2 separate regions of the Homo sapiens genome follow, and region 1 is linked to region 2. The links come from fine-mapping of genetic effects on gene expression. A gene starts in region 2. The other region holds a variant in brackets. All regions are shown on one strand. Distances are between the middles of the regions.

Region 1 (12,200 bases), 28 kb after region 2:
TGGCCACCAGCCCTGGACTTCTGCCAAGGAGTCTCCCGGAAGGACAGCAGGGCGGGTGGGCGGTCAGGGTCAGGTCCACGCTTGTGCTGGTCCGTCCTGGAGCTCGCCATCCCGGGAGGGGTGCGCCACCGTGGGTGCAGGGGCATGTCCAGGCCTCAGCTGGTGACTTCCAGACAAAAAATGCCCAAGCAACTCTGAGGCCTGAGGGCAGCCTACGGGGAGCGGCCACCCGCTGAGTGTGGGAGCAACCACCGTGGGGTCGCAATTTAGGGGGCTTCGTTCTCCCGGACGCCAGATTCTGCGACCTGAGAGTCTCATGGTGGGGCTGGCCTGCCTTGAATGTGTGTGCATCCCATATTGAAAAAATGGATGGAGGGCCGGGCCCGGTGGCTCATGCCTGTAATCCCAGCACTTTGGGAGGCTGAGGTGGGCAGATCACTTGAGGTCAGGAGTTGAAGACCATCCTGGCCAACATGGTGAAACCCCGTCTCTACTAAAAATACAAAATTAGCTGGGTGGCACACTTCTGTAATCCCAGCTACTCAGGAGGCTGAGGCAGGAGACTCGCTTGAGCCCGAGAGGCGAAGGTTGCAGTGAGCCGAGATCATGCCACTGTACTCTAGCCTGGGCGACAAGAGCAAAACTCCGTCTCAAGAAAAAAATAAATAAATAAAAATAAAAACATGGAGAAGGCAAAGCACTCAGGCTTGGTTTTCTGCAGGTGGGAAAGGACCACACAGAGGCCAGACCCCTTCAGACGTGCCTGCTCCCCACACAGCCGGCTTGGGAGCCAGGTGGCCATTTTCCCATGTGAAGGAGAATATTTCCCTCCTCATTCAGGGCATCTGGGGTTGGGGGCCAGGACCTCCTCTGTCCCTGCTTCTCCTACATCCATCTGTCCAATGGATGCCAAGCTTCGACTGGTTGCCAGGCATGGGGCTGGGCCCCAGGAGAACCGGAGCAAGGACGAGACCTCTTCTCCATCCTGGTGAAGCTCTGTTCCTGGGCGGGTTAGTCAGGTACTCAGGACACCACAGAGGGCAGTGGGTGGAGGGCTTCAAAGTCATGCCCTCGGTAACTGGCCAGCAAGTGTTGCCACCAAGAGCCGTAAGGGGGCTTCAAAACGCTGGCACCTGCTACTGAAAGGTTTGTGGAATCTTCTTGAGATTAAAAATGAAAATGCTGCTGGCCTCTGTCTCTACACATTCTCTAGTGACTCTGTGTCTTCATCAGGGCAAATCATTCCTTGCAATAAATATCTTGAAGGTGTTCAATGAGCTGGCTAGTTAGAGCTTCTCTGGAGCCCTGTGTTCGAGTGGGACACTTGACTTTTGCTGTCAGGCCCCTCTTGGCATTGGGGTCACAGGGAGCAGTGATTCTCACACCCTACTGTGCAAAGGAATCCCCTGGGGCTTGTTGGAATGCAGACTTGCGCTCGGTGGCTCTGGGTGTGGACGAGGACCCTCTGCCCGCAAGCTCCCAAGTACTTGTCTGTTCGCGGCTGCTGGGCTGCAGGTCACCCCTTGACCAACAAGAGCTTAGACGGAGGCTTCTCCGCCGTGGCTGTACTGCTGTCCTGGACGATCTCTGTCTGTTGTGGGGGCTGTCCCGTGCACTGTGACATGTTCAGCAGCATCCCAGCCCTCCACCCACAGGGTTACAGTAGCACCCCCACCCTCAACCATGACAACCAAAAATGTCCGCAGACGTTTTCGTTTGCATCCCCTGGTGGACTGGGGCATGGGGGCGGGGTGTTGAGAACCACCGATTAGTAGACTTTCAAAGACTCTCCCAAATCCAGTTTTTTTGTGATCAAAAGTCCACATCAAATCCTCTTAGTTGGAAAACACGCATCACTCTAAGGCTGAAAAAGATGACTCCACAGCTGAGCTCTAAATGTCCTCTTAAAAATATAAAATCCCAGATCAACCTGTCTTCACAATGGCCGCATGTAGCAGCCCCTCCACAAAGACTGGGTACAGTGGCATTTGCACCTTCTAAGGGACCCTGGAGTGCGGCCTGACTGAGAGAGTGGATGGGGAGGGGATGCCGGGTCTCTGGCTCAGGTGTTGCGTGTTGGGAGCCCACTAGGTAGAACAAGTGTCCTCCACCCAGCTCAGCTCCGGAGCCTTCCTCGAAAGGCAAGAGGTCAATTCATCTTCTGCCTCAGCAGAATCGTCCCTTCCTTTACAAGGGGACTTTGCTCCATGATCTGACAGACCTGGGAAGTGTGTGGAGGTTTTACACGATGACTCAGTGCACATCAGAGTCAGAGACAGGACGGCCGAACACTGATTCCAGAGATAGGCATGTGGGCCCCGCCCGGGAAGGAGAGCTGCCTGGGAGATGGGGAGCTGCAAGAGAGCACCCAGAGGGGTAAATTTGCACAAGGCCACTGCGTACACTGGTACGTGCTTCCTTGAAAATGTGACATTTTCAGGCAGGGCGCGGTGGCTCAAGGCCGGGCACGGTGGCTCACGCCTATAATCCCAGCACTTTGGGAGGCCAAGGCGGATGGATCACGAGGTCAGAAGTTCAAGACCAGCCTGGCCAACATGGTGAAACCCCATCTCTACTAAAAATACAAAAATTAGCGGGGCGTGGTGGTGCATGCCTGTAATCCCAGCTACTTGGGAGGCTGAAGCAGGAGAATCGCTTGAACTCAGGAGGTGGAGGTTGCAGGGAGCCGAGACCGTGCCACTGCACTCCAGCCTGGCAACAGAGTGAGACTCAGTCTCAAAAAAAAAAAAAAAAAGAAAATGTGACATTAGTTTTCATTGCTCTGAAAGAAAAGCGAGACTGTTTCAACAGTTGGGTAAATTACTGTGCTTCCAGTAACAAAGACAGGTTTTCAGATGCAAAGTGACATGTACAACTACTGTGGAGAAATGTCCATCAGACGGAGTGCTAAGTGGGGACAGTGTGCCACCACTGAGCCAAGAATGGAGGAGATGAATGTGTGTGTGATATGGAAAATAAATGGAAGGAGAATTCAAAACCTTTCAAATTTGTTTTATATAAGGAGTAGAGAAGAATAATGAAAACAAGCACAAAAGTTAGACTTTTTTTTTCTTTTTTGAGACAGGCTCTTGCTCTGTAGCCCAGGCTGGAGTGCAATGGCACAATCACAGATTACCGTAGCCTCCACCTCCCAGCTCAATTGATCCTCCCACCTCAGCCTCCTGAGTAACTGGGACTACAGGCACACATCACCTCACTTGGCTAATTTTTGTATTTTTTGGAGAGATGGGGGTTTTGCCATGTTGCCCAGGCTGGTCTCAAACTCCTGGGCTCAAGCAATCCTCCTGCCTGAGCCTCTCAAAGTGCTGAGATTACAGCTGTGAGCCACCACACCCAGCCTAGACTTTTTTACATCTGTTTTCTCGCATAATTGGCTTTGGAGTCATGAATTTATAAAAAATTAATAGAACTTGTTTTTGTTTTTTTGAGATGGAGTTTCACTCTTTGTTGCCCAGGCTGGAGTGCAGTGGCGCGATCTCGGCTCACCACAACCTCCACCCCCCAGGTTCAAGCGATTCTCCTGCCTCAGCCTCCCAAGTAGCTGGGATTACAGGCATGTGCCACTACGCCCAGCTAATTTTGCATTTTTAATAGAAACGGGCTTTCTCCATGTTGGCCAGGCTGGTCTCAAACTCCTGACCTCAGGTGATCTACCTGCCTTAGCCTCCCAAAGTGCTGGGATTACAGGCATGAGCCACAGCGCCGGGCCCTAATAGACTGTTTTTTAGAGGAGTTTTGGGTTCACAGCAAAATTGAGGGGAAAGTACAGAGAATTCTCACATTCTCCCACTCTTCAACCCCCAAAACACCTTCCCCCACTGTCAACGACCTGCACTGGCCATACATTGTCGGACTCCATCAACCACGATAAACACATCATTGTCAGCGGGAGTCCGTCATTTACATGCAGACTAGCCCTTGAGTTTAACAAATGTATAATGACACATATCCACCATTATAGTATCATATGGAGTAGTTGCCCTAAAACCCTGCTGAGATGGTGCTGGTATTCTTATTCTGAGGTTGTCAGGTATCTAACGTGGAATGAAGCAATAGGTCATTAGTGATATTCTATCATTCCTGATGTCCCAAAAGCCGTGAATATCAGCGTGAGAGAAAGGGGATACAGACGGAAGGTGGAAGAGGAACCGCTGCCATCTTGGATATGAGTTAGAAGTGTGGTTAGGAGCTCCTGGGCTAGGAAGTACTTTATTTATTTATTTGTTTGTTTGTTTGTTTATTTATGAGACAGAGTCTCACTCTGTACTCACCCAGGCTGGAGTGCAGTAGCGTGATCTCGGCTCACTGCAACCTCCGCCTCCTGGGTTCAAGCGATTCTCCTGCCTCAGCCTCCCTTGTAGCTGGGATTACAGGTGCCTGTCACCATGCCCAGCTAATTTTTGTATTTTTAGTAGAGATGGGGTTTCACCATGTTGGCCAGGCTAGTCTTGATTGAACTCCTGACCTCAGGTGATCCGCCCACCTCAGCCTCCCAAAGTGCTGGCATTACAGGCATGAGCCACTGTGCCCAGCAGAAGTACTTTATAGATGTGTATTTCCTAGCTCTTCCACTGTAAAAGCTTAAAATCCATGACCAACCCTCAGCCATGTCCAGAGGGTGGCTTGCAAATTTCTAACTTAAAAAAACCCCCTGGAATCCTTGGAGAATGAGCTGATTCCATGTTTGGGCCAGGAAATGTACAAGATGAGCCACAACATCATATCCAATAGCAAAGATGTTCTCAAAGACTGTGAGGGTCAAGACAACAGGGCCCAGTAGCAACCTGGAGAAGCACACACCGGCCAAGACGAGACCATTTAAACATCAATAAAAATAAGTCAGTGCAACACATCAGATACGTTTAAATCAATTAAGTTCATTCTGGCACGAAAGGGAAAAACAAACTCGTCACTGCGGGAGATGCAGGGAACTGACTCATTGTTTTGCAAACTGGAAATTAAAAGAAAACACTTACGTATTCATGCTGTGGTGGCTGTACTGGTGGCTGACCAAATGGTATAGATAAGGGGATTTTTTCCTTACCAGGAGCATTCCAGTTAATAGGTGAAGGCAGACATCACGATTTTGTAGCCTGTAATCAATGAAATCGAACATCATAACAGCCCCACAAGACATATCTGCCTTTAGATGGAAGATTACAGCACCATCTATCAATATTATCAGTAATCTCGCCAAAAAAATCCAAATCTAAATTTGGTGAAGCCTCTAGATCCAATGATCCATTTATAGGAAATACAAAGGAGAGAGGAAAGTGTTAAGAGACAGACTCTGGCCAGGCGTGGTGGCTCACATCTGTAATCCCAGTACTTTGGGAGGCTGAGGCAGGTGGATCACTTGAGGTCAGGAGTTCAAGACCAGCCTGGGCAACATGGCGAAACCCCATCTCTACTAAAAATACAAAAAATTAGCCAGGTGTTGTGGCGCACACCTGTAATCCCAGGTACTTGGGAGGCTGAGGGAGGAGAATCGCTTGAACCCGGGAGGCAGAGGTTTCAGTGAGCTGAGATTGCACCACTGCACTCCAGCCTGGGGACAGTGTGAGACTGTCTACGAGAAAAAAAAAAGAGAGAGAGAGACAGACTCTAGGGATGCCATCTGGGAAACCCAGCAGGAAACCCCGAAGGAAAAACACCCCATTTTCTTCAACAAATACATTTCAGGGAACTCAAAGGTGGAGGGGAAATTTATAGGTTAGAAAAGGCTTAAAAGAAATACCTACTCAAAATATGAGTACTGATGAGAAAACTGTGAAAAAAATTACTATGGCATCAAAAGACAGTTGGAGATAACACTGACTGGAGGTTTGATGACATCAGTGGATAACTGTGAATTTTAAAAGTCAAGCGAGTATCCTTATCTCTTAGAGAAATGCCTTGAAATATGAGGGGATGGAATGAGGTGGTGTCTAGGATGTGCTTCAAGTCACACAGCAGAGGAACTAGCCAAGCATTGATCATGGCTGAAGCTGGATGGTTCATGGGGAGGCATTGGGCAGTTTTGTCTCTTTTTTATTTCTATTTATTTGTTTCATTATGTGTGTGTGTGTGTGTGTGTGTGTGTGTGTGTGTATACATATATAATATAGTTACACATATATATACACATATATTATACATATATACATATATATATATATTTTTTGAGATGGAGTCTCACTCTGTTTCCCAGGCTGGAGCGCAGTGGTGCGATCTTGGCTCACTGCAACCTCCGCCTCTTGGGTTCAAGTCATTCTCCTGCCTCAGCCTCCTGAGTAGCTGGGATTACAGGTGCACACCATCATGCCTGGGTAATTTTTGTGTTTTTAGAGACGAGGTTTTGTTATGTTGCCCAGACTGATCTCGAACTCCTGACCTCAAGTGATCTGCCTGCCTCGGCCTCCCAAAGTGCTGGGATTACAAGCATGAGCCACCATGCCCAGCCTTTCTTTTTTATATGTTTGAAATTCTGTATAATAAAAAAATAGAGGAAATGCATAGATCAGAGTCAAGCACATATGAGAATCCTAAGCTCCAGAAGAAGTGGTGTCTTGGGCTTTGTTTGGAATTTCCTTTCTGGATCGCTCACTATGTACCAGCTTTGTGATTTATAACCAGGAACGGAAGCAACAAAGAGCATTTAGGATGGCTTGAATTTGGAAGAATAGCATGATGGTTACACATGCAGACTCTGAAGCCAAGCTCATAGTTTCAAACCCCAGCTCCTAGCTGTGTGACCTTGGTCCCACTGTATACAATTGTATAGCCAATTTTCTTCCACATACCTCATCCTTATATGATGGTGACATCAGCTGGGCCAAGAAAGACTTCATTTGTTGAGTGCTTTGCTTTCATGCATGTGGAATTTCAGATTTGAATCCATTTCCAAGTGGAGTTATTAAGTAGACAGGGAGACTAACAGTCCGGAGTTTGAAGAGGTCTGTGCCAGAGATGTACATTTCAAATTCATCACCTAGATGATGGATGTCAACATACAGTTAGCATAGACATGGAGGGGGGTCATCACATAGATGGTGAATGTAGTCATATAGTTGGCATATAGATGATGGATGTTGTCACATAGATGATCTATGTCATCACATAGATGATGGACATCACTCTGTCGCTCAGGACGTCAACGCTGTCATCACCTTGATGATGATCATCATCATGTAGTCAACACATAGACAATGGACATCATCGTGGTCGTTACATAGACAATTGACATCTTCATGGTCATTACGTAGACAATGGACATCATCGTGGTCATTACATAGATAATGGACGTCATCACAGTCATCACATAGATGATGGATGTCATCATAGTCATCACACAGATGAAGGACATCGTCGTATGGTCAGCATATGAATGAGATCATTCAAGCCACAAGAAGTGAGCGTTGCACCCAGGGGACCCGGGAAATAAGACACTGGGCAGCAGCACAGGAGGAACCCCTGTGGTGTGAGGGAGGAAGGAGAGGTGTGTCCTTCCCGGCAGCCAAGTGAGGACGGTGCTCAGGGCGGAGCAAGCTTTGGCTCCCACACTGCTGCTGGTCAAGTGAGGCAAGCACTGAGGACAAGGCCCTGGAAAACTTGGCAAGAGCATCACGGGTTGATGGGGGAATCCGTGCTCCACGCATAGCCGTGACGGCTGTGACCTGGCTGGACACTGTGATGGTGAGGGGCATGGAGCTTTGGCAAGGACTCACTTTCTGTCAGAGGACAGGAGAGTTGAGGTCATAGGAGCATGGTCGGAACGTGGGTACCTCAGAGCGGGCCCCCAGGACCAGACAGGCTAGCTTTCTGGGTGCCTTGTTGGGATTGAGGACCTCCCACCCATCATGGCCACGGCCTCTCCCTAGAGGTGCATGGGAGGCACAGGTACAGGCTGCTGTTGGGGCTCTGGGGAAAGAAGGGACCCACGACCTGCACCTTATCACCCACTGCCTGCCACACTAAAGTAGAAGCTTCCTCTGACTCCAGGATTCCCAAGGAGGTGTGTGGTGGCCCAGGAAGAGCAACTGCCATGTGGACAACTCAGGAGGAATGGAGAGCAAATCCCTTCTGTCCCACATACACTCAAGGAAGCTGACCCGCTCAAGTAATGGAGGTCGGGGGAAGGGGGTTGAGAACCTGGACTCCACAGGCAGGGGGTCTACACTGGCACTGGTGAAGCAGGCAGAGCCTCAGGCACCTCCGGCCGCATCATTGTGTCCCGGGGACCCAGCAGCCCAAAAGGGCTACACGGACTTTCCTTGCAGAGCCACACAGAGGATTTCTTTCCTCTACTCAGTTCTAAAACAACGTCTCTTGCTCCCTTCAGTAAGGCGACCCCTCCCATGGCACAGCTAATATGTGTGAGTAGAAAAATAACAGTGACACAATCCACACAAGATCCATGGAGCAGATTTATCTTAGGATGGAATTTTTCAATGACACGTGTTAATGTGTGTGAACCTCCTTTGGTGGAATTTCACGGGGTGAAATAGAAAAGGACAAGGAAATTCTGAGAGGTGCACGAGGCTTTTTGGGCATGGTAATGAGACATCCTTTCTCAAAGCCCACCCTGTCTCCAGGTAAATCTTCACCAAGACAGTAGGAATAATGGGTGAAGGAAGTTACAGTGGCTCAAAACTACGGTTCTCACTCCACCAGGGGCTCTTACTATCTGCAAAGTAGAGCCCATTTGGGGGTGGGAATTGGAGGAAGTGGGTGCTCTGGACCAGCTGTGCAGAGCTCCTGTTGCAGAGACAGCTGTGGACCCAAGGCTCACGTGGGTGGGCAGAGCAAAGATGGCAGAAACCTGTTGCTCAATTTTTATCTTAAGGAAAATGAGCTCTGAGTCACGTTGAAAATCTGGTAACTCTAGGTGCTCCTA[C/T]ACAGTATTTACCGGGAACCAAAACTTCTAAAGTTGAGGCAACCTCAACTATGTGGGTCAAGAAACAACAGGAAACTCAGAAGACAGAAAATGCTGGAATGGAGCCAGTGAAGTGTCGATGGCAGTTATCTGGAAGGGATGAGGGTTGGAGGACTGTGGATATTTAAATTCTCATTTCTATTTTTTGGTATTTTATACACATTCTACTAGGAGCAAATAGTGCTTTTATAATTAGAAAAAAGTACAGAGGCTATTTTTTATAAAGAGAGGAGGGGGAAAGTTTACTGGATTTGCCTAGAACATGAGATTGTGACTGGGTGGAGATAACAGTGATAAATTCCTCTATTTTAAGCTACACAAATCTAGGAAGTCTACAACATCTAGAAATGTAGGAAATCGGAGTGTAGAGCCTGGCCATGGATTCTGTTCTTCATGTTTGAAATGTGCACGTTGAAAGAAAATTATCATTTTAAATTCTGTACAGTGTGTAACTTTAAAAAAGTACTGTATCTTCTAAACTTCAAACATTTTTTTAATCTACTTTTGAAAGTGTTTCCCTTTTTCTCTTGGCTGCCAGGATGCTCAGAGCTAAATTTGGGGCTTAGTCTGTATTGTTAAGGATAACAAACAACCATCTCTTCCCTTCTTTCCTTAATGTCCATTATTTTATGCTTGCTTGAATGATTTTATTGATTATGTTTTTATTACAAGCCCCTACAATCCTTTTGGCTGGGGATATAGTAATAGTAAATGATGTTATTTGACAGAGAAACTGTGAAGTCAAGAGAAACAGGGATTTTCCTCAGTTATGGGTGTCAAAGCTGGAGCTCAGATGGTGTTGGACTCCACACTTGGGCCACTGAGCTAGAATCCAGCCTCTCAGACTCCTCATCCAGTGCTCCTTTCACACTGCCAAGCTAAGCAGAGGACATTGGGTGGCTGTCTGTGACAGCTTATGACAGATGGTGAGAGAGGGGCCATATTACCTCCCACTCACTTCCGGTCATGCCCACCTGGAAAGGTGGGAAGTCATTTACCAGGCAATGTGGGCCCTGCTGTTGCCCCACTCCTGGAAGCACCTGCTCAGAACCAGTCGGACGGGGCTGCCACAGCCAACGGTGACAATATTTCCCAATCTTGGTTTCAGAGCAAGGCTAGTTCCTTCAGAAACTTGTTGTCCTCATCCTGTCTTGGTTTGGTGATGTTTCTGTTCAAACCTCTGTCTCTCTAAGGATCTGAGTCTCCCCACATGTCCTGGAGCACCATGGCCCCATCCCCTTGTGTGGCATGGGGTCTGGCTGTGTTAGTCCGCTCGGCTGCCACAACACAGCTCCACAGGCTGTGGTTTAAGCAGCAGACGTCACTGCCTCACGGTTCTGGAAGCCGAAGTCCGAGATTAAGGCGTCAGCAGGGGCAGCTGCTTCTGAGGGCCATGAGGAAGGGATCTGTTCCAGGCCTCTCTCCTTGGCCTGTGGACGGCCATCCTCCCCCTGTGTCTTCACTCACCTTCCTGCTGTGTGAGTCTGTGTTCAGATCTCCTCTTCTCACAAGGATACCAGTCCTGTTGGATTGGGTTCCACTCTAGTGACCTCATGTTGACTTAATTACCTCTCTAAAGACCCTACTCCAAATCCAGTCACTTTCTGAGGTGCTGGGGGTTAGGACTTCAATACACGAATTTGGTGGGGGCACAGTGGAGCCTGCAGGACTTGCCCCTATCTCTGCAGAGGCCGGTGTGGCCTGGAGGTGCTGAGCACCTTGGCCGACCAGGCCCCAGGTCAGAGGAATCTCCCCGTGTACCGTGTGACTACGCCAACTTTGCCCATCTCTCTGCCCATGGTTTCTTCACAGGAAGCCACCGCCCACATGGCAGCATTGTTCTGAGGATTAAGGGTCACACTGGAAAGTGCTGGCACCTGAGAGCAGCGTAGGAAGAGGGTGTGGTGAGTGTCCCTGACACAGAGGGATCAGCCTTTGTGAGGAGGAGGCCCTGCCTGCTCTCCTCCTGAGCTGATGGGTCAGTCACACCAGGACAAAGGTCTGCCCGGGGCTGTGTGGGTTCCTCCTTCCTGAGCTGCACACCAGCATCTGCTGAACACCTTCTGGAGCTCAGCTCAGTGTCTCGTCCAGAGACACTGGTTCCCTTGGCTTCTCAGCAACTCTCGGATCTGGGCCTGGGTCTAACCTCAGCGGTGGTCTTGCCCATTTCTAGGGCCTCACAATTCAGCCTCATGTCTTCACCTGTGGCTCTTTTGCAAGGCTCAGAAAGCTCTAGGGTCAGTTCCAGATGACTCCCACCAGCATGCCAGTAGGAGCCACCACCCCCTCTCAGCCAGCGCCACCATATTCCAGGCAAATTCCAACTGACACAGACTTCAAGGAACGATTGTAGCCGTTGTTCTTGCTTCTTCCAAATGGAAGAGTGCATTATTGGGGTCCCTTCTAGCACGCATTTCATTCCCCACCGTGAGGCAGGGGATGCCCGGGCTTTCCCCTGACTTGCAGGGGGAGAGACAGGAGTGAAAATGAATCTGCTCAAGTCACTTGTGGACAAGAAGGTGCAAGCTCCAGACTCCGGTGCTGCGTCCTCATCCGGTGTATGCGCAGCATGACAAGCCCGGACCAGCAGCAGATATCAGGCCAGCCTGTGCCAGGAAACCTCCTACATCAAGGGTGCAGGCTCAGCCCACTGGGGTGGGCAACCTGCGCCCCTTCCATCACTGCGTCTGGCTAAGCGGGCAAGTAGACAGCCACCCAGGTGGGGCAGGTGATGGCTGTACCCCTGCTCCTGGCTGGAGTTGCTAACCGAGGACCCTTGGGAGCCACCCTCTGCCACCAGGGATGAACCGCAGCCAAGGAGGCAGGACAGGGGCCCAGTCTGTGTGGTCTCTGGAGTATTTCTCAGAGAGCATTTGTGGGACCCTGGCCGCGGGCCAGGCTCTAGAGGAGCAGGTGTGTCTGTCAGTGGATTTGGGGAAATAGTCATTAGCAGGGACCTGTCTTAGAAGCAAAGTTCATCCAAGAGGCTTTGAGAGGTACTAAAGGAGAAGCTGCTCAATCTAACTTCTTATAACAAGGAAACCCAACCTCCTTTTAATTTTTTGTCCCTCAATGTCCCTGTTAACATCCCATGTCCTTGGAACTGGTAATGTTCCCTAGAACGCCTGTGGGAAAACATGGGTCAAAGGGAGTATTGAGCAAGAATTAATGCTGAATTCTCTCCTCTTCCCTTATTTGTGCTGAGTCCTGGTTAAAAAATAATAACAATAATAACATTTACTCAGGGCTTACCATGAGCCAGTCG
Region 2 (16,558 bases):
GGAAAGGTGAGCCAGACCACAGAGTGCTCCAGGGTTCACATGCAGCAAAGCTGTTTGGCAAAACAGGAAAGATCTCAGGACAGTCCTAAGTCCTGCCTCAGGTAGAGGCCGGGTAGTCAGGTGAGATGATTTTCCTGGCTGTTAGTACAGCAACCCTTGCTCTCCAAGTTAGCTTCCTGATCTACACCTGGATATTTTTAGTCTAGAAGAACACCTTTCCTTCAGAACTAAGAGTGAGACTCTCTTTAAATGCCAGACTGCCGAGGGTAAATAAACAAATATATGCTCAGGTTAAAGAGAAGAGAGACCCTTCCTCAGAGCAGACTCTAGAAGGAGAAAAGAGGAGAGAACACAAAGGGAAGCAGATACCAGCCTCCGGGACAGCATCAGCTCCCCACACCCAGCAGGCAACAGAAACGGTGGCCCTAATAATATTGTATATTGTCACAGGAGAAAATGACTCTAAAGATACATAAATGTCGCTAAATTAAAAGGAAACAAGCCTGGGCAATGTGGCAAGACCCCACCTCTACAAAAAATAACAAAAATTAGCCAGGCATAGTGGCACGTGCCTGTAGTCCCAGCTACTTGGGAGGCTCAGGCAGGAGGATTGCTTAAGCCAGGGAGGTCAAGGCTGCAGTGACCTGTGATTGTGTCACTGCACTCCAGCCTAGGTGACAGAGTGAGACTCTGTCTCAAAAAAAAAAAAAAAAAAAAAAAGAACCAATCTCTTGGTCTTTTGGAGGGTTGTTTTTCAAGGCAATGAGGTTGAAGACCCTAACTTATACACACACAGACTTTTTTTTTTTTTAATGGTAAATCATGACTAGAAAAAAATGCTTTACAATCATGGTTAAGTATGACGTTAGGGTATAAAACAGAATGCAAGTTTTCTGCCCACATGATAGATTAAAAGTAATGGCAAAGCCGGGTGCGGTGGCTCACGCCTGTAATCCCAGCACTTTGGGAGGCCGAGGCGGGCAGATCATGAGGTTAGGAAATCAAGATCAGCCTGGCCAAGGTAGCAAAACCCCCTCTCTACACAAGATACAAAAATTAGCCGGGCGTGGTGGCATGTGCCTGTAATCCCAGCTACTCGGGAGGCTGAGGCAGGAGAATCATTTGAACCTGGGAGGCAGAGGTTGCAGTGAGCCGAGATCGCGCCACTGCACTCCAGCCTGGGCGACAGAGCAAGATTCCATCTCAAAAAAAAAAAAAAAAAAAAAAAAGGCAAAAACCGCAATTACTTTTGCACCAACCTAATATTTGGGTTGCACATGGCTCTTTCCTATCATAAGAATATCTGTAAGAAAGTTCTAGACATAGAATGCTGTTAAAATATTGTGTGTATTTTAAATTTCATTAGATATTCTCTAACAATTCTCCATAAAAATGTCAGGTGACTTATTTTTTTCAGTCTTCTAATTTTAGAATTAGCATGCATAGCAGAAACAGCTATATTTTTCAAAAACCAGAAAAGTGAAACACTGCACATGAAGACTGCCTGGAAACTTTATCTGCAGGTCCACAGTACCGCATCAACAGAATGGGAACGTCGTTTTTAGAACTAGAGGTAAATCGCCTGTGTCTCCTAGATCACTTTGGGGCCTGTTTTCTACGTACCAACTCTCTTACTAAGTGGACCGTTTACAGTTGACCAGAAACTATGACCAGAAAACCCATCTGTCTTGCTGGGGGAAGGAACTGGTCACCAGACATAGCATCCGAGCTGAGGACCATGGTGGAGTTATCTTTACACTACAAATGTTTTCTACCTAAAGTCATCTATAAGCCATGGACATAGTTCAGAGAGAATACTTTCTGTTACCATGTCGGGGTGTCGAATAGTGTCCTGCCCATCCCCCCACAAATTCACATCCTTCTCAATCTCAGAACTTGACCTTATTTGGAAATAGGATCATTACAGCTGTAATTAGCTAAGACCAGGTCATACTGGGACAAGGCGGTCCCTCATCCAATGTGAGTAGAGTGCTCCTAAGAAGAGGAAAAGTGACACAGAGACAGATGGGCTGGCAGAGACGGCAGGGGTGTGTCCGCAAGCCAAGGAATGCCAAAGACCACCAGCCACACCAGAAGCAAGAGAAAGGCCTGGATCGGCTTCACCCCCAGAGCCTTCGGAGGGAGTGTGGCCCTGCTGACCCCTTGACTCTGGGCTCCCAGCCTCCAGGACTGTGAGAGAAGACTTTTCTGTTGTTTCAAATTCCCCAGTTTGTGGTGCTTTTGTTACAGACACCATAGCAAACAAGTACACCATGTGAGTTTAGGTGTCTTGATGTATTTTTGTTTTTTTTTTAACTTGTAACATTATTTATTTACCATTTTAACTTCGATTTTAGGGGTACATGTGCAGGTTTGTTATATAGGTAACTCGTGACTCAGGGTTTTGATGCTCAGATTATTTTTCCACCTAGGTACTAAGCCTAATACCTAATAGTTGGTTTTTTCCAAACAGCTCTCTCCTCCTACCCTCTACCCTCAAGTAGGCCCCAGTATGTGTTGTTCCCCTCTGTGTCTTTGTGTTCTCATCATTTCGCTGCTGCTTATACGTGGGAAAATGCAGTGTTTGATTTTCTGTTCCTGTTAGTTTGCTGAGGATAATGGCCTCCGGCTCCATCCATGTTCCTATAAAGGACATGATCTTGTTGTTTTTTTATTGCTGCGTAGTATTCCGTGGTGTATATGTACCACATTTTCTTTAGTCTATCATTGACAGGTATCTAGGTTGCTTCTATGTCTTTGCTATTGTGAATAGTGCTTCAGTGAACATATGTGTGCATGTGTCTTTATGGTAGAATGATTTATATTTTTTTGGGTATATACCCCGTAATGGGACTGCTGGGTCAAATGGTAGTTCTTGGAGGAGTTGTCACAATGCTTTTCACAATAGTTAGACTAATTTACACTCCCACCAGCAGTGTATAAGCATTCCCTTTTCTCTGCAAGGTGTTTTGATTTAATGGAAAAAAAGGAAAAACGTTTATTTCCTCAAGAACATCTCAAATGTATAAACATCTGCCATGTCCTAATAGAGCTTATAATAAAATCTTGTCACTAGGGGCAGATTGTAGAAGTTCTAAATGCCTAGTTTGAGAACTTTTAACGAGCCTTCTTATGGAAGTACATTTTGTGAATTTTCTATTTGTTAATCTGATCTCTGAACCAAAATTCCCTCTGGACATGGACCTGTTGTTCCATATCCCCACATCATACCTGGAGGACTCTAAACCCTCTCTCCAATGAGAGACCCCTTTCCGCAGCCCGGTGAGGAGCTTTGAGCAGTTTCCAGTCTAGGAACCAGGAGAGGAACTAGACCTTCCTCCTTCTTAAGCCTCTGTGGAAGACCCTGTCCCTGTGCCCCGTGGCTGTGGCACTTCCCAACGGCTGAGCCTGTGCTTTAACTGTGTTCTCATAGCTGCCCTCATCCTAAACCCCAAAAACCAGAGGGGCCGAGAGAAGAGGTGTGGCCCCCCCCACCCCGGCTGACACAGCCTCCTTTGTATCACATCCATGAGGTGAACCCAGGGTCCAGTGTCCTCCGCAATAGACTTCCAGCTTCTGAAACCAAGGGACAAAGGTACAAAAGAGTGACTCCCTGGTTCTTGGTGTTGCAACCCCGGGATGATGAGTCAACCGTGCTCGCTCAGCTGAGAATACTGCTCTTTCTCTCACTGTCCTCAAGGAAGAATGTGGAAAGGTTCCTCAGGCCTGACCCTTGTTTTTATTTCCTTATCGGCTCACCTGGGACACCTACCCACTTTCTCATCCTGCAAAGCATAGAATCAAGACGCAACTGTGTCTGAGAGCTTCTGCCTCCACCATGGGAACACACCTGGCTGGGAAGTCTTAGCTCCAAAGTTCTACACCAGGCCCCCAGTCATCAGCAGCTCCACCATGGGGAATAGAGTAGCAGTCCCATTTTCTAGGGAGGATTCCTGGTAGCTCAACTAGCCCATTGAGTAAGCCCTGTTTGTTCTTCATGGAATGGTTCAGTAACTCAAAGGGCAGTAGAAAAAAATTATTAATCAAAAAAACCCAGCCTGGCACAGTGGCTCAGGCCTGTAATCCCAGCACTTTGGGAGGCCAAGGCAGGCGGGTCACCTGAGGTAAGGAGTTTGAGACCATCCTGGCCAACGTGGTGAAACCCCGTCTCTACTAAAAATACAAAAGTTAGCCAGGTGTGATGGTGCGCACCTGTGATCCCAGCTACTCTGGAGGCTGAGACAGGAGAATTGCTTGAACTCAGGAGGCAGAAGTTGCTGTGAGCCGAGATTGTGCCACTGCACTCCAGCCTGGTTGACAGAGCAGACTGCATCTCAAAAAACAAATGAACAAACAAAAAAACCCAAGGGAATCGAAAATGGAATAATCTTACTCAGGACATTTTGTAAGAGACGTGAAAGACCATGCAAACATTTAGCATTCCATCCAAACTGGGCAAACCTAAAGTAGGCAAACCCTCCTGCTCAGACAAACACTCCTAGTTGCTGCTTTCACTGGTCTCATAGTACCTCATTTTCCTCAACTCTAACTCGGAGTGGAAGAGTGTTGTTTACGGGCTTATGTTCCTGCCCCCTGAGGATATAATTTCTTCAGGCAGGATTATTTTTATCCTCACATGGTTAAGTAAATACCTGCATAGATATGCAATTCAGGTGCATCCTGGCCAGCCCAGCTGAACCACATTCATTTCTCACTCCTATTCATTTCTACTCTCTTTACTTCTTTGTTTTTGTCTTGTTGTTGCTTCAGACACAGTTTCTCTGTTGCCCAGGCTGGAGCACAGTGGAGCAATCTTAGCTCACTGCAACCTCCACCTCCTGGGCTCAAGTGATCCTCTGGCCTCAGCCTCCCGAGTAGCTGGGACTAGAGGTGCGCACCGCCATGCCCAGCTAATATTTTTGTATTTTTTTTGTGGAGACGGGGTTTTGCCATGTTGCGCAGACTGATTTCAAACTCCTGAGCTCAAATGATCCGCCTGTCTCAGCCTCTCCAAACGCTGAGATTACAGGCGTAAGCCGCAGTGCCCAGCTATCCCTACGTTAAGACGGCACCGGCAGACTAATTCTCAAGTTCTACCTGCTAATTTACCCAATGCTTCATCATCACGGACATGTACCCACATGGACAAGCCAGGGCCCAGACTGTACTAGACCTTCCCACAGCCTAATTTTAGGGCACAGTGGCAACATGTTCACATGGGCAGGGGTCAAAAAAAAGAACCCAGGGGATCTTTAGAGTCGTGGTTCTCAAAGCGTGGGCCTGGGAGCAGCAGCATCACACCACGTGGGAACGTGGTCAAATGTCAGTGCATGAGCTCTACCCTGCACCTGAGACTCTAGGCAAGAGGCCCAGCGAGCCCCACTGCTGGAACAAGCCCTCACTCAGATAAGCCTGATGCATGTTCAAGTTTGAAAAACGCTGACTTAGAGCAATATTAGCCCAAAAGAACCCAATGTTAGAAGTTCTCTTTTCTTGCTGCTGGCTAGGAGGAGGTGAGTTCCCCCGAAGGTCATATGCCAAAGGCTTCCTTCAGTGTGGGACCACCTCTATAGCTTGCAGCAGGGACACCAGCTGCCCTGGTACTTCAATATTGTTCTTCGGTTGACTCAAGAGTTGACAGGAGGAGGAGAGAATGTGGAGGGACGCACCAGGTGTGAGGGACCTTCACAGCCCATCCATCATTTTAAGCTCAGGCAGCTGACTTGGAAAAACCTATCAGAATCACAAACAAGGCCAGCCAGGAGGCTGAGATCTGGTGGGGCAGGAAGAGAATAAAGTATCCTACTTTAAGTGAGTGAGTATCTCCAATCAACCTGGAGGTCTTGGCAGATAGAGGCAGGTGCTTGCTGCATTGAACCTGAAGCCTTGTACCTAATTTTCAGAGTCCATTTAGCATAGTCTTGCTAAGCTTTGGATAAGGGAGTGAGGTGGGGTGGGAGGAAAGAGATCAAATAGTCAAAACCTTCAGCAAAAGCACCCCCAGCCCTATGATCCTACGAAGGCTTCGGAGGCTGCTTTTTCTTACTGACGCTTCTTCCCAGCATATAAGAAGTTTTCTGCTATTCAGAGACTGAATTCAACCTGACAGCCCTTGGGAAAAGAACATCTCTCCACCCCAGGCTCTGAGAACCACACAGATACCTTGGCTAGGATCCCCAAACTATGGCTCATGGGCTACATCTGGCCCACTGCCTGTTTTTGTGTGGCTCACAAGCTAAGAAGAATGTAAGCTTACATTTTTAAGTGATTGTAAAAAGTTTTTTAAGATTTTGTGGCACATGAAAATTACATAAAATTCAAATGTCTCAGTACATAATGAAGTTTTATAGAAACTGCTCTGCTCATTTGTTGATTGTGTACGGCTGCTCTAGAACTGCAGAGTTGAGAAGTTGCCACAGAGACCACCTGGCCCCCAGGACCCGAAGCATTTCCTACCTGGGGCTTTCCAGAAGAGACTGTCGACCACTGCTTTAAAACAAAGGAGGTGCCGTTCATGAGCCCAACAAGACACTCAGCCAGGTTTGGCTGTGCATTGCCACACCCAAAGCAACATTTTTTTTTTTTTGAGACGGAGTTTCACTCTTGTCGTCCAGGCTGGAGTGCAATGGCACGATCTTGGCTCACTGCAACCTCTGCCTCCCGGGTTCAAGTGATTCTCCTGCCTCAGCCTCCCTAGTAGCTGGGACAACAGGCACATGCCACCATGCCCAGCTAATTTTTGTATTTTTAGTAGAGACGGGGTTTCACCATGTTGGCCAGGATGATCTTGATCTCTTGAACTTATGATCCGCCCGCCTCGGCCTCCCAAAGTTCTGGGATTACAGGTGTGAGCCACCGCGCCCAGCCCCAAAGCAACTTCTATTTATTCTGTTAACTGTTGTGGATTCTCCTTGCCTCTGTTACTAAGTCTAATAAATGCCTTAATGGTATGATTCTGAGTCTCATCCAATCCCTCACTTTCCTATTCATTCAGAACTTCTGCTCCTGGATTCTCAAGGAATGAAAAAGCACCTGCCGTGAAAATTTGCTCCAATTACAGTGGGACAAAGTCAGAGGCAGGAGGTACAGGCTTCTCTAAGGACCACGTCCTTTTTGTCCCCTGCCTCGTTCGCCAACTGCTTCAAGTGTCCCCTCAGTCACTGAGGGATCTGAAGCAATTCTGGCATGACCTAAGTACCAAAGATCTGTTCTTTTTTTTTTTTTTTGAGACGGAGTCTTACTCTGTCGCGGAGGCTGGAGTGCGGTGGCACCACGTTGGCTCACTGCAACCTTCGTCTCCTGGGTTCAAGCAATTCTCCTGCCTCAGCCTTCCGAGTAGCTGGGATTACAGGCACCCGCCACTATGCCCAGCTAGTTTTTATATATTTTTAGTAGAGACGGGGGTCTTACCATGTTGGCCAGGTTGGTCTCGAACTCCTGACCTCAGGTGATCCACCTGCCCTGGCCTCCCAAAGTGCTGGGATTACAAGCGTGAGCCACTGCGCCCGGCCAAGATCTGTTCTTAAGAGAAGTTACTACTACTTTTTTTCCCCATAACAACCATTAAACAATTTTTTTTTCATTTACTAACTAACCCTTGATATTGAAAAGTTAGGACTTCAGTAAAAATCAAATCGGTTTTTGCATATCAACTTTTTTGTTGCTATTCACATGCTATGTCAATCTCAGTTGCAAACAGAGAGGACCAGTTGCAGACTAGAACGCATCAATTCATTTGGAAAGGAGGCTTCAAATCTAACTCTGTATTCCTTCACCAATAACCAGGCAGCTGCCTCTAACAGCTCTCGGGATTGGATCTGCTGGAAATGCTAAACACGGGTCATAAATTCCAACTCAACAAGGATGCTGCTCAGGTATTTGGTATTTGATGATCAACAGAAATAGTTCAGAGCACCTCCCAGCAAAGTTGCATAGAGTGACAGGTGGGACTTGTTTGAGGGCGGGACCCAGAACTGCAGCCCAGGAATCTGCCTGCAGAGCTGAGCTCGGCCACAGTCTCCGCCAGAGAGGGAAGTTGCAGGTCTTTCTGGAACAGGCACAACTGGCTACAATTAGAAGTCCAAAGTGTGAACCACTCACTGCTTCTCCTTAGGAACCACCACATGCTGTGTCCGGCAGGCATTCTGAGAGCCAGAGGACGGCTGCACCCTGGGGCTGGGCACTGACACACATCACTCCACCAGGACCACTGAGGCAGCCACCGACCGACATTCCTGTCTACAGGCTCAGATCCCCCTCAACAACGTGGCCACATCTTCTGCAAAATGCTGGCCGGGGGCATCCATGGCACAACTTTGGGAAGCTGACTGGGCTTCCTCATCTTTAAGAAAGCAGCGGGCTGGGCTGCTCCCAGCAGCTCTGGCTCTGCTTCCGTTCATTCTCTCTGGGTCTGCCTTAGTTCCAGGGTGATTAATTCGGAAGCGGGGCAGGAGTCAAGTTGCCTCCTAGCTGTTTTGCTGACGCTCCAGCCCCATCAAGAGCCAGCTCCTCACCTTCTGTAAGGCACAGAAGGTGCCTCAAATTAAGCCAGGGGACAGTGCAGAGGGTTAAGAGGGGGCCACAAAGAGAGGCCCCATCTCCTCTTGGGCCAGGGTTCCCTGCGGAACTCCAGGGTCACCTCGCCAGCCAGAGGCAAGACAAGTGCAAAGGCAGCCACAAGGCTTCCGCCAGTTAGACGGTGTTTCTGCCGCCCCTGCCGTCACCCGCTGGGTCCCGTCCCGCTCCAAGCGCACTCCCGGCCCGCAGGGTGGGAATACGAGGATTACAGTGCCCCACGGGCGGGCGGGCCAGGATCGCAACCTCGGCGGAGTCGGCGCCTCTGGGCACCTCTGGCTTCCGCGCCCCGGCCGCACGGTGACCACCCGGGAGGGGATCCCGGGCGCCCCGCAACCTCCCGGCCCCCGTGGGCCTTCGGGTCGCCCCGCTTCCCGCCGCCGCGTACCCTTCGCGCCTCCCGGCCCTCGGTGCCGGCCCCCGCCCCGCGTAGCTCCGAGTCTTTAGCCCGGCCGGCCCCCCACCCGCCGAGCGTACCCATGGCGGCGGCTCCCAGGGCTCCTGCGACCTGCCGGCGGGACGTGCTCCTGGCAGGTGCTACTCCTCCGACCTGACGTCCAGGCCCGGCCCCGTTGCCCCAGGTACAGCCCCAGCTCTGCGAGGCGGGGCCGCCGGCTCCACCCGGGGGGCGGTGCTGCGGGGAGCAGAGGTCCGTGCTCCCGAGCCGTCGCGCGTGGACACCAGCCCCGGCCCAGGTGCGGGTGGGCCCCGACGGGAGCGCGTGGCAGGCCGGGGGAGAGCCAGTCTAAACGCGGATTCCCAGGCCCCACCCCCCGGCCAGCTGACTCAGGAGGTCGGGGCTGGGGCCCCAGAATGTGCATTTCTAAGAAGTCTAAGGGGAGGTTGATGCTGCTGGATCCAGAACGACACTTTGGAAACCACTGTGGGAGGAACGCACGCTTCTGGGTGGGGAGGCAAAACACGGTGGGACAGTGGTCAGCTGTGTGTGTGTGTGTGTGTGTGAGAGAGAATGTGTGTGTGGGTGTGAGTGAGGATTGTGTGTGAGTGTGTGTGTGTGAATGAGGATTGAGTGTGAGCATGTGTGAGAATATGTATATAGTTTGCATGTGAGAATGTATGTGTGATGTGTGTGTGAGAGTGTGTGTGAGAGTGTGTGTGTGGCTTTATTTTGAGATTCAACCTTTGAAAGCATTTCTGGGGGATTCTACATTTCCTTTCTTTAAGAATCATCCTTTCTTTAAGAGGACACAACCAAATGGAAGAATATTCTATGCTCATGGATAGGAGGAATCAATATCGTGAAAATAGTCATACTGCTCAAGGTAATTTATAGATTCAATGCTATGCCCATCAAGCTACCAATGCCTTTCTTCGCAGAATTGGAAAAAACTACTTTAAAGTTCATACGGAACCAAAAAAGAGCCCCCATAGCCAAGACAATCCTAAGCAAAAAGAACAAAGCTGGAGGCATCATGCTACCTGACTTCAAACTATACTACAAGGCTACAGTAAGCAAAACAGCATGGCACTGGTACCAAAACAGATATATAGACCAATGGAACAGAACAGAGGCCTCAGAAATAACACCACACATCTACAACTATCTGATCTTTGACAAACCTGACAAAAACAAGCCATGGGAAATGGATTCCCTATTTAATAAATGGTGCTGGGAAAACTGGCTAGCCATATGTAGAAAGCTGAAACTGAATCCCTTCCTTACACCTTATACAAAAATTAATTCAAGATGGATTAAAGACTTAAATGTAAGACCTAAAATCATAAAAACCCTAGAAGAAAACCTAGGCAATACCATTCAGGACATAGGCATGGGCAAGGACTTCATGTCTAAAACACCAAGAGCAATGGCAACAAAAGCCAAAATAGACAAATGGGACCTAATTAAACTAAAAAGCTTCTGCACAGCAAAAGAAACTACCATCAGAGTGAACAGGCAACCTACAGAATGGGAGAAAATGTTTGCAATCTACCCATCTGACAAAGGACTAATATCTAGAATCTACAAAGAACTTAAACAAATTTACAAGAAAAAAATCAAACAACCCCATCAAAAAGTGGGCAAAGGATATGAACAGACCCTTCTCAAAAGAAGACATTTATGCAGCCAACAGACACACGAAAAAATGCTCATCATCACTGGTCATCAGAGAAATGCAAATCAAAACCACAATCAGATACCATCTCATGCCAGTTAGAATGGCGATCATTAAAAAGTCAGGAAACAACAAATGCTGGAGAGGATATGGAGGAATAGGAACACTTTTACACTGTTGGTGGGAGTGGAAATTAGTTCAACCATTGTGGAAGACAGTGTGGCAATTCCTCAAGGATCTAGAACTAGAAATACCATTTGACTCAGCGATCCCATTACTGGGTATACACCCAAAGGATTATAAATCATGCTACTATAAAGACACGTGCACACATATGTTTACTGAGGCACTATTCACAATAGCAATGTCTTGGAAACCAGCTCAAATGTCCATCAGTGATAGATCGGATTAAGAAATTGTGGCACATATACACCATGGAATACTATGCAGCCATAAAAAAGGATGAGTTCACGTGCTTTGCAGGGACATGGATGAAGCTAGAAACCATCATTCTCAGCAAACTATCACAGGGACAGAAAACCAAATACTGCATGTTCTCACTCATGGGTAGGAGTTGAACAATAAGAACACATGGACACAGGGCGAGCAACATAACACACCAGGGCCTGTCAGGGGGTGGGGGGCTGGGGGAGGGATAGCATTGGGAGAAATACCTAATATAAATGATGAGTTGATGGGTGCAGCAGGCCAACATGGCATGTGTATACCTATGTAGCAAACCTGCTCGTTCTGCACATGTACCCTAGAACTTAAAGTATAATTTACAAAAAAGAATCACAAAACAAAAATAATAACACAGTGATTGTCTCCAGATTATTGTTCTGTTTTCTTGCCTGATCTCAGGAGGTTTTGCAAACACAGAAAGGAACATTAAAAAGGGGAATGAAGGTGAGTTTCCACAGCCTTTTTGTTTTAATCATGCTGAAATACAATGTAAAACTATCTGAAGTGCACAGTTCAGTGGCATGAAGTACATTCTCATTGTTGTCCCACCATTCCCACCATCCAGCTCCAGAACTTCTTCATCTTCCCAAATGGAAACACTGGACCCATTAAGCAATACTCCCCATCCACCCTTGCCCCCAGGCCCTGACACCCACCGTTCTTCTTTTTGTCTCCATAAATCTGACAACTCTGTCGTCCAGGGAAGAAATCTCCAGTGTTTGTCCTTTTGTGTCTGGCTTCTTTCACTTTGGGTAATGCCCTCCAGGCTCATCCATGGTATGAAGTACATCAGCCTTCCTTCCTTCTGAAGTTGAGGAATATTCTGTTGTGTGTCTACAACACACTTGGTTTATCCACTCACCTGACTCTATTATCTCTTGAGTCTTAGCATTCTCCCAGCCAGCCTTTCTGGAAGACTGTGGTGCCTAGGGAGAAACAGAGACTGCTATTCCATGGAGGTGACTGAGCCTGCCCTTCCCCGGCTTTCTTCACTGCCGCTGAAGAGTAAGAAACTCTTCAATTAGTTGCAGCATTGATACACACAAGGTAGCGGTCAATGTTACCTCCAGAAATGGGGGCTGCAAGTCACAGGACCTCATTAGGTAGAAAAATGCAGCCTCGGCTGAAGGAAAGGAAAACTTTCTCTGGAAGGTTTGGAAGCACACTCACAGTTGCTACCCTGCGAGATATCCCGGGCGTAGAAAGGTGGAGCTTGTGATGGTTTGTTTAGGTCAAAGTTTTCTCTGCAGGGTGGTATTTCTGTGGCTGAGCTCATGAACCCTGGAATCCGGACTTCTGTAAACACACTCTTGGTCTAGGCCAGCGGTTCTTAAACTGTGATCCCTGGACCAGCAGCATCAGCATCACCTAGGAACTTGAGAGAAATGCAGATTCTCAGGCCCCGCCCCAGAGCTACTGAATCAGAACGTCTGCAGTGGGTGCAGCAACTTCTCAGTAGTTGCGAGACAAATGCTGTTTCTTCCACAGGCTTATTTAATCCTTCATTCAGGCATTATTTATTTATCACCTCCCAGTGCCAACTACCATGCTAGTGACGGCATTGGGCAGAGTGGGTGGCCAGCGCAGAGACAGGCCTGCGCCCACAGAGCTCACATTCTTATCCGTTACAGCACGGCCAGAAGAGGCAAGGTACTCAAGATGGAGAAGCCTAAATGAAGAACAAAAACCAAGGGGGTCAAGGAGACAGGCTCTGCAGATCCTGAATAGCTCAGCCAATCCCTGGAGACCTGTGTCTTGCTGTGCTGCTCCCTGGCAGGCTGTGTAGGGGGTAATAGTGTAAACCAAAAGTAAATTTCTAAGGCCCCCCGACCATCTGAATGGACTTCCTCCTCTGCCCGGGCACTCTTAAAATTTAACCTGAGAGACTGCTCCAGGCCATGATGGGAAGTGGGGATTGGACGTGCCTCCTTGTACCTCTTGGGCATGGCACTAACATCAACGCAGACCTTAAGTCTAATAAAAAACATTTACAATATATTCTCTCTGAAGCCTGCTACCTGGAGGCTTCACCTGCATGATAAAACTTTGGTCTCCATCACCTCTTATTGCAACCCGGACATTTTCTGTCCATTGATCTCAGCTCTTTAGATAAATTCAGCCAATTGTCAACCAGAAAATTTTAAATCTACCTATAATCCAAAAGCACACCTCCCCCCATCCCCTACTGCTTCAAGTTTGTCCTGCCTTTCTGGACTGAACCAATGTACCTCTTAAATGTATTTGATTGATGTCTCATGTCTCTAAAATGTGTAACACCAAGCTACACCGGGATTACCTGGGACACATGTTCTCAGGATCTCCCAAGGGCTGTGTCAGGGGCCTTGGTCACTCACATTTGGCTCATAATAAATCTCTTCAAATATTTTACGGAGTTTGACTCTTTTCGTCAGCAGTAGACTCGGTTTTTATACCCTCCATATGGGCAACACAGTCTATGTATTCTATTCGTTTCCTGTGGCTGCCGTAACAAACTGCCACAGACTTGGAGGCTTATGAAAACACAAGTGTGTTCTTTCACAGTTCTGGAGGTCAGAAATCCAAAATCAAGGTATCAGCAGCATGCTCCCTCCAGAGGCTCTGGGGGGGACCCTTTCTTGTCTCTTCCAGCTTCTGGTGGCTCCATGTGACCTGGGGTTCGTGGCAGCATCACTTCCATCTCAGCCCCTGTCTCTACATGGCTTCTGCCCTGTGTCCTGTCTCCTTCTCCTCCCTTGTAAGGGAACTTGTCATTGGAGCTGGGGCCCACCCTAGTCCAGGATGAGTTCATCTCCATATCCTTCACTTGCTTCCATATGCAAAGACCCTTTTTCCAAAAGAGGCCCGGGTTCCAGGCAGGCACCATGAGCCCACTATACTCCCCAAAGGGACCCAAGTCTGGAATTGGAGTGTACAGAATTGGCAGGCTGGTCCTGGAGACACAGAAGTGTTGCTTGGCTTCCGAGAATTTTCCTTAGGCAAATGTTGTAACAATGAGATCAGCACTCAGTGGTAGCAGTCAGGGTTGTTCAAAACTAGGCCTGTCCTTGTTTTCTTACTGACACATTTAAATGATACAAAGGTATACTAGTAATCTATTCTAGGAAGAACATGGCCTTGAAAAGGTGGCTTGCAAACTTTTTGGAGTAACAGAGCGTCATTTCCTCCAGTTCTGTTCCTCAGATTGCTTGGCTGTAAAGACCTTTTCATTCCATCTCAGAGAGAAATTGAGTAGATGTCAAATATACAGCAATTAGAGTTGCTATGGAGATGCTGATGTTTAAGGAAGGGACTTGAGGAATAAACAATAAGAGTGAATCCCATAGCCATTATTTGAGAAGAGAGAGAGTCTGGGAAATGGAATGAGATGGTGGGGAGGAGGTAGGAGGGGAATAAACACGTGAAGTTTACCTGGAAAGTAGGAGAAGGAGGAAGACCAGTAAGCAACTCAAATTCATTCAAAGGCACTTGGGAACCAAGAGCTGGTGGACAAAATTCACATGTTGTGGCACATGAACCCCCAAGGCCTCAGAATATTAAGGGACTAGCCCCAGGAACATGGGATTGGGGGGCTTCCAAGCCGTGATGTCCTATTTACAGCATCTAGAAGACAAAGTGATCCATAGTAAATAAGTACATTACCATGAGCACCAAACTAATCTAAATTAAAACAGACTTTCCTTGCAAATCTAATTCTCAATCTTGATTGCCTGTAGTGTCAGTAGTAATGATCAATATTGATTACACACTTGCTGTATATAGATCCTGTGATCAATCTCATTTAATTCCTTCCTCACTATAATGCTATGGGTATTATTATCGGGGAGCATTTTTTTCTTTTTATTTATTTTTTTATTATGAAAAGTTTCAAACATACATGAAAAGGAAGAAGAGAATATGGCCGGGCGTGGTGGCTCATGCCTGTAATCTTAGCATTGGGAAGCCAAGGAAGGAGGATCATTTGAGCCCAGAAGTTTGAGACCAGCTGGGCAACTTAGGAGACCTTGTCTCTACATAAAGTACACACAAAAAGTTACTGGGCATGGTGGAGGTCAAGGCTGCCGTGAGCCGTGACTGTGCCATTGCACTCCAGCCTGGGTGACAGAGTGAGACCTCATCTCTAAAAGAAAAAATACAAAAAGAAATACAGACACAAATGTCCTATTTATTCACTTCAGGTTTAATTATACAATACCAGAACATATCTGACAACCTGCTTTAGTCAAGTCCTATACATTTAAAATACTATAGGTGATGGAGTTGGCAGTTATTTTGAATAAATATACATCTTGACACCTTATTACTCATGCACAATTACTCTATGTTTATCTTCTAGAATTACAAGACATGATCTCTCCAAATGCCACAGCTGACAAAGATTTTAGAAAATTCAGGTATTTCTATAACACACTGCTTAATTTGCCTTTCAAATTTTCTTTTTTTCTTTCTTTTTTTTTTTTTTTTTTTTTTTTTTTTTTTTGAGACAGAGTCTCACTCTGTTGCCCAAGCTGGAGTGCAGTGACACAATCTCAGCTCACTGCAACACCTCAGCTCACCGCAACCTCCGCCTTCTGGGTTCAAGTGATTCTCCAGCCTCAGTCTCCCAGGTAGCTGGGATTACAGATGTGCACCACCACACCTGGCTAATTTTTGCATTCTTAGTAGAGATGGGGTTTCACCATGTTGGCCAGGCTGGTCTCAAACTCCTGACCTTAGGCGATCTGCCTGCCTCGGCCTCCCAAAGTGCTGCAATTACAGGCATGAGCCACTAGACCTGGCCATCTTTCAAATATTCTACCACTCATATGTATATTAAATAACTGGCAAAAATCATGAGTTTTTTTTTGTTTTTTTTTTTTTGAGAAAAGGTGTTCGTTTTCTACTGGTACTGGAATAAATTATCACAAACTTAGTGGCTAAGACAACACAACTTGCTGACAGTTCTGGAAGGCAGAAGTCCAGAAAGGGTCTTACGGGGCTAAACTCATGGTGTTGGCAATCTGCGTCCTTTCTGGAGGCCCTGGGTAGAACTATTGCCTGGTCTTCTCCAGCTTCTAGAGGCCGCCGGCATGCCTGATTGTGTAGCCTTCTCCTCCATCTTCAAAGCCAGCAGCATAGAATTTTCCAACATCTTCCTTGCTCTCTGCTTCTTTCGCCATCGCATCTTCCTCTCTGATCCTGACTTTCCTACCTCCCTGTCAATGAGGCAGAAATTTAAAGAAAAATAAATACTGCATTTATTCACTCCAAGGAAAGTAAGGGTTAAGTGAAAAACACAAGTTTTCCTCTACTGCAGGCAAGGCTATAGACAGGTCGTGGTGACCCGGCCTGCAGAAATGAGCTCCACAAACCCCCAAAGCAAGGTTAAGAGAAGAACAACAACGCCGGGTGCAGTGGCTCATGCCTATAATCCCAGCACTTTGGGAGGCCGACGTGGGCGGATCACG

The links. PIP is the estimated chance that this variant, and not a neighbour inherited with it, causes the effect.
Region 1: its variant is fine-mapped to the expression of SLC15A1 in sun-exposed skin (GTEx, PIP above 0.99).

Annotation. Positions count from the first base shown.
Region 1 is chr13:98,774,020-98,786,219 of GRCh38, forward strand. No RefSeq gene overlaps it. Among named protein-coding and RNA genes, the nearest start is that of SLC15A1, 27 kb to the left of the region's middle. RefSeq lists a silencer at 7,796-8,090 and an enhancer at 11,681-12,200. The variant C/T (reference allele first, on the strand shown) is at 8,897.
Region 2 is chr13:98,743,544-98,760,101 of GRCh38, forward strand. SLC15A1 (solute carrier family 15 member 1) reads right to left here and starts at 9,129. Exons shown (of 23, transcript NM_005073.4): 1 at 9,052-9,129. The coding sequence starts at 9,055. It overlaps LOC105370330 (a long non-coding RNA gene), which reads right to left and starts at 14,654. Exons shown (of 3, transcript XR_931672.2): 1 at 14,523-14,654; 2 at 12,179-12,489; 3 at 11,579-12,040.